4 separate regions of the Homo sapiens genome follow, and regions 2, 3 and 4 are each reported to be linked to region 1. The links are microRNA targets in miRTarBase. Many come from high-throughput screens and were not tested one by one. Region 1 holds a microRNA gene; each other region holds the end of a gene's coding sequence.
The links. The annotated mature microRNA hsa-miR-769-3p reads CUGGGAUCUCCGGGGUCUUGGUU and lies in region 1 at 3,039-3,061, opposite strand. An mRNA with a match to its seed (bases 2 to 7 or 8) in the 3' UTR can be bound and repressed. Matches are read on the target gene's strand: a 7mer-m8 pairs with bases 2 to 8, a 7mer-A1 pairs with bases 2 to 7 and ends in A, and an 8mer does both.

Region 2: the mRNA of LMBR1L is a reported target of hsa-miR-769-3p. Seed matches in the 3' UTR shown: 8mer at 909-916 and 7mer-m8 at 1,170-1,176.
Region 3: the mRNA of GPAT4 is a reported target of hsa-miR-769-3p. Seed matches in the 3' UTR shown: 7mer-m8 at 461-467.
Region 4: the mRNA of LDB1 is a reported target of hsa-miR-769-3p. Seed matches in the 3' UTR shown: 7mer-A1 at 1,788-1,794.

What each region holds. Positions count from the first base shown.
Region 1 is chr19:46,017,903-46,022,060 of GRCh38, reverse strand. MIR769 (microRNA 769) reads right to left here and starts at 3,129; the gene lies at 3,012-3,129. CCDC61 (coiled-coil domain containing 61) reads right to left here. Exons shown (of 14, transcript NM_001267723.2): 13 at 3,911-3,983; 14 at 3,445-3,771. The coding sequence ends at 3,674. PGLYRP1 (peptidoglycan recognition protein 1) reads left to right here. Exons shown (of 3, transcript NM_005091.3): 2 at 2,414-2,535; 3 at 2,642-2,908. The coding sequence ends at 2,823. RefSeq lists an enhancer at 1-400.
Region 2 is chr12:49,094,179-49,098,336 of GRCh38, reverse strand. It overlaps LMBR1L (limb development membrane protein 1 like), which reads left to right. Exons shown (of 17, transcript NM_018113.4): 16 at 232-393; 17 at 598-1,198. The coding sequence ends at 665. DHH (desert hedgehog signaling molecule) reads left to right here and starts at 3,536. Exons shown (of 3, transcript NM_021044.4): 1 at 3,536-4,127. The coding sequence starts at 3,825. It overlaps DHH-AS1 (DHH antisense RNA 1), which reads right to left. Exons shown (of 4, transcript XR_007063295.1): 3 at 4,149-4,158; 4 at 2,593-2,936.
Region 3 is chr8:41,620,662-41,624,819 of GRCh38, forward strand. GPAT4 (glycerol-3-phosphate acyltransferase 4) reads left to right here. Exons shown (of 13, transcript NM_178819.4): 13 at 232-4,158. The coding sequence ends at 340. Among named protein-coding and RNA genes, the nearest start is that of NKX6-3, 28 kb to the right of the region's middle. RefSeq lists an enhancer at 2,340-2,439.
Region 4 is chr10:102,104,231-102,108,388 of GRCh38, reverse strand. LDB1 (LIM domain binding 1) reads left to right here. Exons shown (of 11, transcript NM_001113407.3): 11 at 66-1,900. The coding sequence ends at 296. Among named protein-coding and RNA genes, the nearest start is that of LDB1, 14 kb to the left of the region's middle. RefSeq lists an enhancer at 368-869.

The DNA.
Region 1 (4,158 bases):
AGACGGTGATAGAGGCGATGGATAAAAGGAAAGAGGTGAGGGAGGGTGACCTCAGGCTGGGACCAGACCCACACAGGCTCCTTGGAAGGGTGGGGCAAGGGAAAGCCTCCCTGAGAGTGGCTGCCTTGGCTCTGGGATGGGGGAGCAGACAGAGGCCTGCAGGTGGCAGGGGGTGCTGGGGGCAAAGCCAACGGGGTTGAGTGGGCGGGTCCTGTGGGAAGGACAGGGTGGCTGAACACAGCCGGGCGAGCGGAATGAAATGAGGAAAGGGCAGGACCAGGCAGGGCTTTGTGGACCACAGTGAGGACTGTAGCTTTTACTCCGAGATGGGAGCCATGGGAGGCTTCCCCCCGCAGAGCAGGGACCAGGGCTAGTGTAGGTACAAGAGACTCCCTCTGGCTGCTGTGGGGAGAACAGACTGTAAGGGGTGCCGGCTGAAGCAGGCTGAAGCAGGTCCGGGGCCACGCCTACCAGCTACCTCCTCCTTAGAATGGGCTGCAGTCCAGCCTGACGGTTTCCACAGGGAGGGAACTTTCAATCCTGCAGGCTCTCAGACCCAGGTAAGCATCAGAATCTCCTGCAGAGCTTATTGGAGGAACATGCAGGTCCCCAGAGACCACTTCAATAGACCCCACCCAGGGGACACATGTTCTCAGGACCTCCTAAGGCTGTGTCTCACACACACACACACACAAAACCCACCCAGAGAAGTCTAGAAGTGTCCAAAGGTATTCCCAGCCCTTCCAGTTCAAGATTTTATCAAAGACTCCAACTTCAACATTTTGTTTCCAAGACTCAGGCGCTCTGATCCTAAGTGTTCCCATGAGGTCACGAAGGCCCGAGCCTCGGGTCCACATCACCACATACAGAAGCAGCCGCTGTCTGGCCCTCAGCTTTTAGGATTCCGAATCTGGTTCTAACGTTCTGAATCCCCTTTCCATGTCACGTCACCTTCTCTCTCTGAGCCTCGTTTCTTCACCTGTAAATGGGGCTTCTGACTGTACCCGCTTGGCGATGGTGGCTGAGGTTTCAATGAGATGCATTCATGCAACAAATGACCAGGGAGAACCAACCACCCCCGACCCCAGCACCATCATGCCAGGCTCCGGGAATATGGCAGGGCCATAACCAGCCAGTCCCAGCAGCCAGCATCACCAGCAGGGCCATAACCAGCCAGTCCCAGCAGCCAGCATCACTGGGGCCAGATTCTGGGAGCTGGCTTCCTAAGCAGCAGATTCGGGACTCAAGATTCGGAAGTTCCGACATTCTGTGCGTCATTAATGACACTGTGAGCGCGGGGGCTGAGTTGGCACATACTGCAGCTCCAAGGCACTGATCTTCTAGTTCATTCCCATTTGCCAAGTCAGACACGCTCAATCAGATGTGCTGAATGAATCAGCCTTAAGGATCTGCTGCCAGGCTTGGGAACCTCAAAGAGGCAGGTGCTGGGGCTCCAGGGTCGGTATCTGGTTACGACCCCAACTTTGAGTCTGTGATCCTGTCCCCCAGTGGACCCCGAGGGCAGGAAGCAAGCTGGGGCAAAGGCAGAGTTCTGAGAGGCAGGGGGCTCTGAGTAGCTTGTACAAATTATGTCGCTTTCTGAGTCTCTGCTCTCTCTGCTTAAGATGAGGATGATAAGAGTCCCTGCCTTGGCTGGGCACGGTGACTCATGCTTGTAATCCCAGCACTTTGGGAGGCCAAAGGCGGGCAGATCACCTGAGGTCGGGAGTTCGAGACCAGCCTGGCCAACATGGTGAAACCCCATCTCTACTAATAATACAAAAATTAGCCGGGTGTGGTGGCTCATGCTTGTAATCCCAGGTACTCAGGAGGCTGAGGCACGAGAATCACTTGAACCCAGGAGGCAGAGGTTGCGGTGAGCTGAGATCACGCCACTGCACTCCAGCCTGAGCAACAAGAGTGAAACCCCGTCTTAAAAAAAAAAAAAAAAAAAAGTCTCTGCCTCAGAGGGCTGTCCTGCAAGGATTCAGTAAAACAGGACTTCCACAAATCCTCTAGGGAGGCAGGAGAGAGCAACGCACAAGATCACATGGGTGGGGACCATGGAGGCCTGGTTAAAAACCCCAGCTGTGCCCCAGACAGGCTGTGTGACCCCGGGGCAGGTGATTCTACCGCTCTGATTCTGTCTATATAAAACGGGGGTGATAGTGACTCACAGGGTTGCTGTGAGGATGGAAAAAGGTGTATGCAGAGCTGTGCTTGGCACATGGCAGGGGCCCAATAAATGACCACAGTCATTGTTACTATCGTGGGAAATTAACGGGTGAGAAGGATGCTGGGGAAGTTGTGTGCACCACGGCAGTAACGGAGGCAGGGTGAGTGGAGGAAGGAGGAGGAGTCCTCCTCGGGAAACCCTCCCTCACTCATCAAGCCCCCCCACCTCCCCATGCAGCTTCCTGATTGGAGAAGACGGGCTCGTATACGAGGGCCGTGGCTGGAACTTCACGGGTGCCCACTCAGGTCACTTATGGAACCCCATGTCCATTGGCATCAGCTTCATGGGCAACTACATGGGTGAGTGACTGTCCAGCCAGTTGGGATGGGGGCTGACACGGGGCCCTACGCTATCACTTCCCCTTCGGGGAAGCCCCTGCCTGACTCCTACCTCTGCCTCCTCCAGATCGGGTGCCCACACCCCAGGCCATCCGGGCAGCCCAGGGTCTACTGGCCTGCGGTGTGGCTCAGGGAGCCCTGAGGTCCAACTATGTGCTCAAAGGACACCGGGATGTGCAGCGTACACTCTCTCCAGGCAACCAGCTCTACCACCTCATCCAGAATTGGCCACACTACCGCTCCCCCTGAGGCCCTGCTGATCCGCACCCCATTCCTCCCCTCCCATGGCCAAAAACCCCACTGTCTCCTTCTCCAATAAAGATGTAGCTCAAAATGTGTTCCTCAGCAGGTCCCACCACACACCTCCCCTCCTTCTCTCCCTCCCACAAGACCAAAGCCCTCCCACCCCTTCCCCTCCCAGCACTCTCCTCACTGGTGCTTGGAACCCAGAGGCCCCGGCCCTGAACCAAGACCCCGGAGATCCCAGCTCGAGAGCAACATCACAGCTCAGAACCCAGAGGTCTCAGGTCAGAGCCCAGGAATCAGCACCAAGGCGGCCGGGATGTCACCAACAGTGGGTCCTGGGGGTCCTCCTGGGCAGTGAACCACGCTGCAAGACACCTCCTTCCCACCACACAGCCAAAGGCATCCTGCGCAGAAACTTTGCTTGGACTCCTTTAGGGACGGGCTGCTCACTACTCCTCCCAGGTCTGCCCTTGCACTGTTTAGAGAGTGTACAAGCTTTTCCTAGGCCTGAGTCCCAATCTGCCTCCGAGGCACAGACACACAGGTCCCAATTATACCCCCCAATTTCTCTTCCTCCACATTTCTCCCCACTCCACCCTCACCCTTTAGTCATAAGCTGAGGGGTCCCCAGGGCAAATATGTTTATTTACAAAATGCACACATCCTCCCTCCCAGCATGCACTGCCTGGGGAGAGGGCAGGGTCAGGGCCTCACACACCTGAGACCCCAGGGGCAGCAGGAGGGACGGGGCCAGGGCAGGGACTGGGCAGGGCTGGAGGCCACCCTGGCCCCACCCCCCACACCATACCCAGCAAGTGGGTGGGGGATGGAGGGGTAGTACCCCTTCTCCACGTTATGACCGCATGTCCAGTCGGTTCATGTACTCCTGCAAGGCCTTCAGGCGTGCGTCTATTTCGGCCATGTCAGCCGCCTGGTGCTCCGAGCTGTACTCTGTGAGAGCAGGTGTGGGTATGGGGGCTGTGAGGGGCCTGAAGCCCCAGGGAGTTCCTGGGCCCAATATACCACTGCCCGCACTACCATTCCAACGGGTCCTGGGGCTGGGAGAGGGGATGTGGAGTCCCAGGCTCACCTTTGATGGGGACCCAGCCCCCGGAGTTGGCCAGAGATTTCTGATGGTGGCTGCGTTCCACGGGGGGAGACTTCTGGTGATGGGGAAGGTAGGAAAGGGGGTCACCCACCGTCCCTCTATTTCTGTCCCCCTAAATCCCACTGGAAATCCTGAGCCTAAGGACCTTGGGGAAAAATAAGGCCTGACACCTACTGGCCATTCATTATCTGCAAAATAACCTCCTAATGTCCTCACAGAGCCCTCACCTC
Region 2 (4,158 bases), not on the chromosome of region 1:
TCACTGGAGGAGAAGATACCAGACTCTGGAAGCGAAGTTGAAGCAAGCCTAGCTGCTGGCACTTAGAACAGTCCCGAACTGCTCTTGAGACAGCTTGGGTGGTAGAATTGGGAGAGGCCAACCTATCAGTTGCAGTGTTGAAATGTGGCCACCAGGAGGCAGCAGAAAGTTGGGCTGGTAGCAGAAAAGGGCCTGGGGAGCCCACCTCTCATCCTGGCCTTTGTGCTTCAGGGCTCACTCGCTTTGACCTGCTGGGTGACTTTGGACGCTTCAACTGGCTGGGCAATTTCTACATTGTGTTCCTCTACAACGCAGCCTTTGCAGGCCTCACCACACTCTGTCTGGTGAAGACCTTCACTGCAGCTGTGCGGGCAGAGCTGATCCGGGCCTTTGGTGAGAGGGAGTGAGGGTGCAGGCTAGTGGGGGGTGGTAATCATCTAGGACACTCTGGAACATGGATCACCCCAGCAGGGGAGAGGGTGTGCTTCCTGCTTTGTGGGTAACGTACCTCATCCACACATTCTGTGGCTTGGCTGCCTGGTCCCTAACGGACTGGACCTTTGACTTGCTTTTGACTGCCCATCTCCTCTTCTCCAGGGCTGGACAGACTGCCGCTGCCCGTCTCCGGTTTCCCCCAGGCATCTAGGAAGACCCAGCACCAGTGACCTCCAGCTGGGGGTGGGAAGGAAAAAACTGGACACTGCCATCTGCTGCCTAGGCCTGGAGGGAAGCCCAAGGCTACTTGGACCTCAGGACCTGGAATCTGAGAGGGTGGGTGGCAGAGGGGAGCAGAGCCATCTGCACTATTGCATAATCTGAGCCAGAGTTTGGGACCAGGACCTCCTGCTTTTCCATACTTAACTGTGGCCTCAGCATGGGGTAGGGCTGGGTGACTGGGTCTAGCCCCTGATCCCAAATCTGTTTACACATCAATCTGCCTCACTGCTGTTCTGGGCCATCCCCATAGCCATGTTTACATGATTTGATGTGCAATAGGGTGGGGTAGGGGCAGGGAAAGGACTGGGCCAGGGCAGGCTCGGGAGATAGATTGTCTCCCTTGCCTCTGGCCCAGCAGAGCCTAAGCACTGTGCTATCCTGGAGGGGCTTTGGACCACCTGAAAGACCAAGGGGATAGGGAGGAGGAGGCTTCAGCCATCAGCAATAAAGTTGATCCCAGGGTTTGCTTTGTTTTTTTAAAGCACCTGTCTCTGTGTATATTTGAACAGCCTTGCTCCCACCAGCCCGGCGTCTGCCCAGTAAGAGAAGCAGAGGGGTCCTGCCCACCATCCTTTTCCTTCCCCTTCATCTATATTATTACCATCCTTTGGGGACTTGGATCTGGTGTTAGGCCATGCAGTTGGGCAGTGGGAAACTCCTCCATCCTCAGTCTTGCTTAAAGCTGGCTTGTCCCCTGACTCCTCCTTATATTCATGGCCTTGTTTCTGTACCTTGAGTATTGGGGGTAGGACATGGGCATAGGAGTAGGCTAACCTCCCCGATACACTCATACCTTCAGCCCTATCCTCCCTGGCTTAACTATTGGATATAGAGTAAAATAAGTGGCTGGCTGACAAGGATTTTCATTTCCTACCTGAGAGAAGAATCTAGCTTTTTACTAGAGGCCATCAGTTTCTTGAAAAGCCCATGTGCTATGTTGGGAGTAAGAGCGCAAAACTTAGGCTTATACAGATTGTGTATTGCACAGCTTCCAGGGACACCATTCACCTCATAGTCATTGTGTGGATAGTTACTATGATAGTTTTCTAATAAATGTCAGTCATCTTGAGGAAGGGGTGCTTTTTTTTTCTTTTTTCTTCTTCTTTTTTTTTTTTTTTTTTTTGTGAGACAAGGTCTGGCTCTATCACCCTGGCTGGAGTGCAGTGGTGCAATCTCAGCTCACTGCAACCTCCGCATTCTGGGCTCAAGCCATTCTTCCAGCTCAGGCTCCAGAATAGCTAGGACAACAGACACATGCTACCATGCCTGGCTAATTTTTGTATTTTTAGTAGAGATGGGGTTTTGCCATGTTGCCTGGGCTGGTCTTGAACTCCTGAGCTCAAGTGATCCACCTACCTTGGACTCCCCAAATGATGGAATTACAGGGGTTAGCCACAACACCCAGCCATCTTTTTTTTGGGGGGGGGGGTCCTCACTCTGTCACCCAGGTTAGAGTGCAGTGGCATGATCTTAGCTCACTCTACAGCCTTGAACTCTTGCACCCAAGTGATCCTCCTTCCTCAGCCTCCTGAGTACCTAAGACTACAGGCATGTACCACTACCTCCCACTAATTAATTTTTTTTTTTTGAAACGGGGTGTCACTATGTTGACCAAGTTGGTCTTCAACTCATGGCCTCAAGCAGTCCTTGCCTCGCCCCCAAAGTGTTGGGATTACAGGAGTGAGCCACTGTGCCTGGCCTGGTTTTTTCTGATGTACACAAAGTTGCTATGAGTACTAGCCATAGAGTGTGGTGAGGGGAGGGTGAATATGAAACACAAAGTGTAGATTCCACAAATGCTTGCAAAGCACCCTTCTGTAGAGTAGGCACTTAACCTTGGAGATACATGATAAATATGTGTGTGCTTAAGATTGCTTTGTCTAGTAAGGTGCCAGATAATTCTAATACTGTTCTAACACTGCAGTTAAGTAATGGTTCTCGAGGGAACACAGGTGGGCAGTGTTGGGACATCAAGGAAGGCTTCTTAGAAGAAATGACTTCTAAACAAAAGAAATTGGACGTGGTGCCTCTGAGATGAGATCTGAGTGGCTGAAAATGGAGCCCCGGGAGTCCAGAGAGGGAGAAAGCTGGAGAGGTGCCTAGATGGACGGTTAAGGGAAGTGATCCTCACCTCTTACAAAGACTTTTGAGTGTCCACTGCCCTTCAGCAGCTTCCAACTGAGAAGTCATTCATTTGAAAAACAGCAGCTATTAGATGCCTGGCAAAGAAGAGAAGGGGAAAAAAGTTGGAAGTCCTAAATGAGACAATAAGTACCAAGCTCTGTTCCTGGTTCTGGGGAAGTTCCAAAGGAGACTGCAAAGTTAGTAGAGAAATGGGCCCCTGGTATCCTCACCTCCCAGTCCTGCTTAATGCTGAATGTGAGGAGAGATGGAAGTCGGGGAGATCTGGGGAGGACTACAGAGAAGGGAGGCTCTGGTTGTATGCCCAAAGGGCTTGGCTGGTCTTGGGCAGAAATTGGAACCCATACTTCCTGGATGACAGCGGAGGGCATGGCCTGCCAGGGTAGGCTTTGAGAGAGTAAAAATTCCAATTCAAGTATCAGAGGAGGGTGGTTTGGTTCCAAGTTTAAGCTTGGAGGTAGAAGGATGTTTAGGCAGCCAAGGACTGTAAAGCTACAAGTATTTCCTAGGCAGGTGTCTGCCTGGTTTCCAGGATGGGACACACTTCAGTCGCAAAATGGACCAGCAGTGACCGGCTAGATCCCCCGCCCGGGTGGGAGGGGGTGGGACGGTCTTGGGAGAAGGGCGGAGGGCGGGGCCAGGGGCCACTTAAGGCGGAGTCCGGAGTCCGGGCGTTCTGGCAGCACCAGAGTCCTGCAGCAGAGACGGGCTGGGCTGGCACTCACCCACGACCCCCCTTCCCTGCTATGATGGTTTGTCAGTAGCAGGTCCTAGACACCCCCCGCCCGCTCCCGGGGCACGTGGGCAGAGCTAGCAGCAGCCAGGTGCACGGAGCCACAAGAGCTCTAGGGCACTCTGGGGGCAGCTGTGCCTGCTGCCCTCTCTGGTGCCTGTGGAGATGCCTAACTGACAGGAGAGTTAGTGAGGACAAGAACGCTCCCTTTTGGCCGAGGTCCGCTGTATCCATGGCTCTCCTGACCAATCTACTGCCCCTGTGCTGCTTGGCACTTCTGGCGCTGCCAGCCCAGAGCTGCGGGCCGGGCCGGGGGCCGGTTGGCCGGCGCCGCTATGCGCGCAAGCAGCTCGTGCCGCTACTCTACAAGCAATTTGTGCCCGGCGTGCCAGAGCGGACCCTGGGCGCCAGTGGGCCAGCGGAGGGGAGGGTGGCAAGGGGCTCCGAGCGCTTCCGGGACCTCGTGCCCAACTACAACCCCGACATCATCTTCAAGGATGAGGAGAACAGTGGAGCCGACCGCCTGATGACCGAGGTAAGGAGGGCCTCTCCCTACCTGCGCCGGG
Region 3 (4,158 bases), not on the chromosome of region 1:
GAGTAGTAAATTCTCACCCAAGGGCAAGGGTAGACCTTTTGAGATAGAAAGGGTGGATATTGGGATCCCGGAGCCCCAAATCCCCTGAGGTTGTCTTGGTGAGAGTGCCACGGGGTACCCTGTTTCTGGCAGGTTTTTCTTGGTGTTTGGGCAGCATGGTGCATCTCCCATGGTGTGAGCGTGGCTGGGAGCCCTCTTGGCTGTTACTACATCCAGCCTTTGTCTCTCCAGGGATGGGGGCCTGAAGAGGGAGAAGGTGAAGGACACGTTCAAGGAGGAGCAGCAGAAGCTGTACAGCAAGATGATCGTGGGGAACCACAAGGACAGGAGCCGCTCCTGAGCCTGCCTCCAGCTGGCTGGGGCCACCGTGCGGGGTGCCAACGGGCTCAGAGCTGGAGTTGCCGCCGCCGCCCCCACTGCTGTGTCCTTTCCAGACTCCAGGGCTCCCCGGGCTGCTCTGGATCCCAGGACTCCGGCTTTCGCCGAGCCGCAGCGGGATCCCTGTGCACCCGGCGCAGCCTACCCTTGGTGGTCTAAACGGATGCTGCTGGGTGTTGCGACCCAGGACGAGATGCCTTGTTTCTTTTACAATAAGTCGTTGGAGGAATGCCATTAAAGTGAACTCCCCACCTTTGCACGCTGTGCGGGCTGAGTGGTTGGGGAGATGTGGCCATGGTCTTGTGCTAGAGATGGCGGTACAAGAGTCTGTTATGCAAGCCCGTGTGCCAGGGATGTGCTGGGGGCGGCCACCCGCTCTCCAGGAAAGGCACAGCTGAGGCACTGTGGCTGGCTTCGGCCTCAACATCGCCCCCAGCCTTGGAGCTCTGCAGACATGATAGGAAGGAAACTGTCATCTGCAGGGGCTTTCAGCAAAATGAAGGGTTAGATTTTTATGCTGCTGCTGATGGGGTTACTAAAGGGAGGGGAAGAGGCCAGGTGGGCCGCTGACTGGGCCATGGGGAGAACGTGTGTTCGTACTCCAGGCTAACCCTGAACTCCCCATGTGATGCGCGCTTTGTTGAATGTGTGTCTCGGTTTCCCCATCTGTAATATGAGTCGGGGGGAATGGTGGTGATTCCTACCTCACAGGGCTGTTGTGGGGATTAAAGTGCTGCGGGTGAGTGAAGGACACATCACGTTCAGTGTTTCAAGTACAGGCCCACAAAACGGGGCACGGCAGGCCTGAGCTCAGAGCTGCTGCACTGGGCTTTGGATTTGTTCTTGTGAGTAAATAAAACTGGCTGGTGAATGAACTGGGGGACTTCTCCCTTTACTTTCTCCCCTGGCTGTGGCCCTGAGTAGCAGGCTTCTCGTGAGGATTCCCGTTCTCTTCTGGGAGCATGGCCCTGGGGCTGCGGAGAAGCCAACTGACTGCTGGAGCGAGGAACCCTGCAGCTCAGAAGGTGAACAGCTCGTCTCAGATGCTTGCAGATCTTTGGTTAATTTAGAATTTCCAGCACAGACGTGGATTTCTCCAGAGACGGGGTGTGTGCGGGTCGCTGATGTGAGGCCTAGGGGAAGCAATGAGTAAACTCCAGGGTGGGGGAGGAGCAAGGGCCCGGGGAGGGCTGCAGAGGGGCCGGGGCGGGGCAGGGCCTGTGCTGCATGGTGGCTTCTGCAGGGGAGGGACAGGGGAGGGCTGCAGAGGGGCAGGGTGGGCAGGGCATGTGCTGCATGGCAGCTTCTGCACAGCCAGAGCAGGCACCACAGGAAAAGAGTCGGCCACTGGTGCCTGCTGTACAGTCACAGTGGAGGCAGAGCCAAGGCCAAGCAGCCCCTGTGGGTTCTGGGGTTTCACCAGTTTCATGCTCCTCAGCTCCCCATTCATGCCCCACCAGCCCTCACTTGGGACCCATGCTCCCTCGTGGCACAGTCATGATGCCTCTCAGGATTTTGTGCCTGTGGTGCTGAGTGTCACGTCCCCAAGGTCGCCCTCTGGCCTGCAGTTCAGGGAGTGGGTGGGAGTGAAGCTGTGCTCCTGGGGCTGCAGACAGATCCACTTTGCATGTGGTACCTGCTGGGTTGGCCCTGCAATCTCCTTTTCTCTGCACCTACCTGTGACCTCCCTGGGAGAGCCTCCCATTTCCTCACCTGCCCTGTTGCCAGCCCGGGGGAAATCTTTTTGCTCTCAAATGAAGACTGAAAAAATAAAGTCAGTGTTATGACTAATAAGTCTCTTAGGAACTGTTTTACAAAATGCTTAAGAATAAAAAGTGATTTTCAGCTTTTATAGGTGATGTTTACAGTGTTTGTAAACCAACTGGAGGGATCAGTAATTGGTCTTAAAAGATCAGGTTCTCTTTTAAAAAGTTCATCTGAAACTTTATGGTTTGTTACTTTCGTGATTTGCATAGGTATTTATATATACACACACACACAGGTTTTGCTTTTGTCTCACATTCAGCACAGCTGTCTGCGGCCCCTGCCGGCAGGTGTGGCCGCACCTGGTGTGAAGTCACGTGGAGTCAGTGCTGTGGAGGGAAGTCCTGTGCGGGCCGGGCAGTGAGGAGAGCACTGATTCACGCCTGCAGAAACGTAACCTCCCCTTTCCGTGTATGCCTTTTACCATCATCCAGGCGACTGCTCCATCCTTTTAAATTAGGGGTCCTGCAAGCCCCAAGTGACCCATAGTCAGAGTATCTGGTTTGGGGTAACCGAGTTGGTCTTATGGGGCAAAAACTCAAGACACTTAGAAACATGCAAAGTACAAAATAATGTGTTCCCTCCTGTTACCCCAGCAAGGGTGGGGCTGAGCTGGGAATGACACCCAGTGGTGTAATGAGTGGAAAGTGCTGGTCAGCTGCTAACCCCCCTCCAAGCCTGCTGCACCTTCACTTCTCTGCATCCGTCTCCTGAGTCATAACTAGGGACTTGGCTAGATGACCTCAGAGACCTCGTCCACCTCTGAATTCTCTGTTTTTAAGCCCATAGTTCAAACTTTGGCTTTGATCTCTGAAGTCTTCTGGGTTTGGAAATACGGGAAGTCAGCTTTGAATCCATTGCTTCTCTAAAACATCAGGGCTAGTGGAACTAACCCACTTGAGGGTGACCTCAAGGGCTTTAGGCAGCCATGGGGCTGGGGCCATACTGCTCTCAGGCTGGGCAGTATCTTCATTGTGGTTCTCAGACAGCCTTTTTTACTCAAACATGAGACTTTCCACCCACCAGTTAGGGAACTTTTTTTTTTTTTTTAAACACGGAGTTTCACTCTTGTTGCCCATGCTGGAGTGCAATGGCACAATCTCAGCTCCACTGCAACCTCTACCTCCCGGGTTCAAGTGATTCTTCTGCCTCAGCCTCCAAGTAGCTGAGATTACAGGCATGCACCACCACACCCAGCTAATTTTTTGTATTTAGTAGAGACTGGGTTTCACCATGTTGGTCAGGCTGGTCTCCAACTCCTGACCTCAGGTGATCCACTCTCCTTGGCCTCCCAAAGTTCTGGGATTACAGGCGTGAGCCACTGCGCCCAGCCAAGAGGGAACTTTTTAATAAAGCTAGTGGGATTCCCTTGACAGCAGAACCAGCCTTGGGACTTGATGCTTCACCGTGTCAGAATCCGTCCCTGGTGCTGCCTTTCAGAGAAGAGGCTTGATGTGTGAGGGGTCAGGGGGAGTGCTCCAGATCCCTGAAATGCCCTTCCCAGACCAGTGACAGGCATTTTTGGGTGCCATCGTGTGACCTTCACGGCACAGCAAACAGTGGGCACTAACCCTGTTGTCCTGTGGAAATCTGGGTCTCTGAATCCTGCCATTTCCTTCCTGGAATTGGCCAGGAACTTGATTTTCTGGGCTATTGCTTGCTAGTGTCCCCTGATGCATGAAGGATCCCCCCATGTCATAGGTCCCACCTGCCTGCTGTGCATCCCGGGTGGCCAGACTCGGCTTCTCCAGGTGCACTTGTCCCAGGTGGCCCGGTCCGTAGGCTGGAAGGGCAGCTGCAGGTGCACTGCCTCGCGGACAGGTTAGGATATGGCCACGCAGCCATCCATCTTCTACAGCACGCACACCCCACTCTCTCCCCCAGTCAATATGTCTCTCTCCGATGGGAAAGTTAATAAATTTTGCTCTAGATTAAAAGTATTGATCATTTCATTTGTAAACGATAAATAAAAAGGGGGAACTTTTCATTGCGCCAGGGGTGGCACCTGGCGTGTGT
Region 4 (4,158 bases), not on the chromosome of region 1:
ATCTGCCGCCCTGGGCCGGGCGAGCCCTTGCCCCGATTATGTTTGGGGACCTCCGCCACTCTCAGGATGTGATGGTGGTGGGGGAGCCCACCCTGATGGGCGGGGAGTTCGGGGACGAGGACGAGAGGCTCATCACCCGGCTGGAGAACACCCAGTTTGACGCAGCCAACGGCATTGACGACGAGGACAGCTTTAACAACTCCCCTGCACTGGGCGCCAACAGCCCCTGGAACAGCAAGCCTCCGTCCAGCCAAGAAAGCAAATCGGAGAACCCCACGTCACAGGCCTCCCAGTAAAAGGCCCTGCTGTGGCCACCCAGTGCTCTGCCTACCTGCCCCACCCCTCACAGCCCCAGGGAGCAGAAGACAGAATGAAGAGACTGAGCATCTAAAATGGGCAGCCTCCATCCACCCGCTTCAGGGAGGAACTGGACTCTCTGGGGGCAGGTGCCAAGATTTGCCCCCCCAGTGGCCCTGGGCTGGGCCTGGCCTCTACAGAGCCTTTTAGGGGGAGGGGGTACTCATGTGGATGCCTACTTGGAACCTGGGCCTCTGAGACATGTCCTGACCACCCCCCAGGGCATTTGCCTCCATCTTCACCCCAGATTGTGGGTTTCCCATCCCCCTGACTTTACCCCTTTCAAGCCTGGGGTTGTCTATACCCACAGCCCTTAGGGACTTAAAGTTACGGGGCTTCGTTGAATGCTCCTTCCCCTAGGCAGCTGGTAATAGAGGGGTAAAGCTCTGGGCCCCTCCTCCCTGCTGCCACTTATCCCAGCTCCAAGTTTTTTTAAAAATAATATTATTAAAAATGTAAGTTAAAAAAAAAATCACTCATGTCCCCCCCTCTTCCCCCTATTAAAAGTCCAGCTACCTCCCTACTCTTGGCAGATGGGGGCCTAGGGCCTAGGTGGGGGTGAGAGTGGGGGAGGGAGGTGTGCATACCATTTTATATGGTGTGAGAGCTTCAGACCAAGGAGACATTTCACCATCTCTCCCCCTTTCCTCTGGGGTGACTGCAGTTGAGGAAAGCATGCCATGGGGTAGGGGGACATTGGTGGCCACATTTTGGTGACAGACCCCTGCTGTTGTCTCTGTGTCCCCATTCTCTGGACTCTGGCCTGCCCTCCTAGTGCTTGTGACTCCCTCTCTTCCAGCCCCACCCCCATGGTATGTATATTCCTTACAAGTCCTCCACAAGAGCAGCTGTCTAGGATGCGGGGAGGGGAGGCTCCTTCCCTTAGGGAGCGTGGAGAGAAGGGAGCAGCCTTGTTGCTGTATTTTTGGTTTTGTTTCAGTTGGGCAGGCATGGGATGGGAGAGGGGCTCAGCCACTTTCCTCCAGAATCTTCCCTCAGCCCCTCCAACTGCATATGTAATCCTACTCTGTCCTTCATAGAGGGGAAGGAGCCACAGATGACATCCCAGTTCTAAGCCCACCAGGGAGGAACAGGCCTCTGTCCCCATAGGTGAGGTAGAGGTAGAGGGTCTTCACCTGCCAGTATCCCCTGCCGCTCCTTCCTCACAGAAGGAAGGAGGAGGAGGCAGCCGGGATCCTCGGCTCTGCCAGGGTGCAGCCAGGAGCAGGGTTTCACGCAGCTGGTCCAGCTCTGTGGCTTTGCTGCCTTTTCCTGTGGCCAGTCCCAGGAAGTGCTAACACCACCTCTCTCCCCACTCTTCCCTCTGGATTCTGGGGTCCCCCACACCGTATTTCCTCCACTCCAGCTGCCACTTTTGGAAGGGTATTGAGTCAGGAGCTGAGGGAAGGGGTGAGGAAGGTGGACATCCCATCCCAACTGTAATGCCTTTTTTTTTTTTTTTTTTTTTTTTTTTTTTTTTTTTTTTTTTTGGGCCATTTGAGTCATGTATGGTACCAATCAATAAAGAGACTTTTCGGTTTGAGAGTGTCCTGGTTGGTCATTGATGCCTAATAATGACTCAGTCCAAGGCAATCTTTTCCCCATCCTTGCAGTTCCTAAGACTATGAATTGGATCCCTTCACTCACCTCACATTTCCCCTCACTCTTGAAGTTGTTTCCCTGAATTACACTTCTCCTTCACCCAAGACCCTAAAGTTTGTTCCCAGATGTCCCAGCTTGGCCCCATCTCCCTCAAAAGTTGAGGGAGAGTTGGCTTTCTCAGTCTGCTCCCCACCTCTCACCCCAGGACTGTTGCTTCTCACCCTTAGCTGTCATGGGGCAGCCAGACAGGTGGCCCTCCTGGGGCAGGTTCCTGGGATAGACTGCCTTGGGTTATGCCGTTGAGGGAGGGGTGGGAGAGGGGACTTGGCCCAGGAGGGGGCTTGGGTTAGATGGTCTTGGGGTACTTAGAGTACCTGGGAGACTCCTACCCCTACCCAGCCCCCAGTCTACTAGCCTGGCTGATGTTGGTTGGTTAGTTGGTTTATTTATTTTGAGATGGAGTCTTGCTCCATTACCCAGGCTGGAGGGCAGTGGCATGATCTGAGGTCACTGCAACCTCCACTTCCTGGGTTCAAGTGATTCTCCTGCCTCAGCCTTCCAAGTAGCTGGGATTACAGGTGCCCACCACTATGCCTGGCTAATTTTTGTATTTTTTTTTTTTTTTTTTTTAGTAGAGATAGGGTTTCACCATGTTGGCCAGGCTGGTTTCAAACTCTTGACCTCAGGTGATCCACCCGCCTTGGCCTCTCAAAGTACTAGGATTATAGGCGTGGTCCACTCTGCCCGGTCAGCAGCTGAGGTCTAAATTAGTCTCCCCTGGTGCTAAGGTCCCTGGGTGGGGGATTAAGAGAGTAGCAGGATTGCTACTCTCCAGACTGGGAAGATATGGAGACCCCGCTGTAGATTGGAGATGGGGTCTTAGTGCCCATAAAGCTCCCTATCCAGTGTCCCTCTTTGTCATCCCAGGCAGGGGAAGCTGAGGCCTCAAACTGTTCCCCTCCTAAGTTCTCCCTGGACCTGAAATAAAGCCCGATAGACTGGCACCTCTACCCTCACCTCCCTAGCTGGTAGGAAGACACCAGAGGAAGGGACTGTATGACCTGTCCAATCTCCAATCTACAGTTATCTTGGCCGTGCCCTGCTGCCAGCCCAGCTTCTCATAACCCAGTGCCTCAGGACCCCAAGGAATGCTATTGCACCCCACCCCCAACTCTTCCTTTGTAGATCTGGCCAGCCTGAAGGACATTTACCAGCCAACTGCCACCAGCAACTCACCCTGAGAGTGCCAGGTAACATCTACAGTGGGTCTGTGTCTGGCACTGAGTGTACATCTAGCCCATTAGCCTGAGTGTGTGTGTATGTATGTGCTGCTGAGCTAGGGAGGGCCTGGATCTGTTTATATGTGCAGGTAAGGGAGTATATACATGTGTTTGTATGTGGGCATGTATATGCATATGTTTATGTATGTGTCTGTTGGTTAATTAATTCATTCAAATATTATTCATTGAGCCCTCTTTAGGTACTAGGCCCATTCTAGGTGCTGGGGATATGATGTTGAACAAAGCAGAGAAGATGTGACTGCTGAGTGTGAGTGAAGGCTATAAATCCGTAAATGAGGGTGTGTTGTTAAATGTGTGGCTTAGCAGTGCGACTGTGTTGAGTTATGGGGCTGCTGGGACAGTGGTTGTGTGACTCGGTTGGGTATTTGTAGGTTCACGTCTTGTATGTATATGTTTGTGTATGGAGGGAGATAGTCAAGGGAAAAGGTAGATTGCCAGGCCTGGACCCCATCCTACTTGGGGGCAGGGGGTAGGTCAGAGAAGCAGGAAAACACACTATTGAACTCAGGAAACACAGTGGCCAGCAACTTCCTCTGGAGCCCCATATCTGGCTCCTCCCCATTTGCCCCCAGGAACCCCTGGTGAAGAGGAATTACTGGGGTGAGGGAAGAGAGAGACCCTCCAAAACCCTCATGCCCTTTGTTTTCAGGTACATATGTGGGCCCAGTCCCAAGCCTTAGCACATTGCTGAAGAGCTTTGTGCTGCTGAGCTAGGGAGGGCCTGGATCTGTTTATATGTGCAGGTAAGGCAGTGTATACGTGTGTTTGTATGTAGGCATGTATACGCATATGTTTACGTATGTGTCTGTTGGTGAATTAATTCATTCGGATAGTCTGACCATGTACCCCAGCCAGGGCTTCTGGATCCACAGAGGTCTGAACCCAACCCCAAACCTCT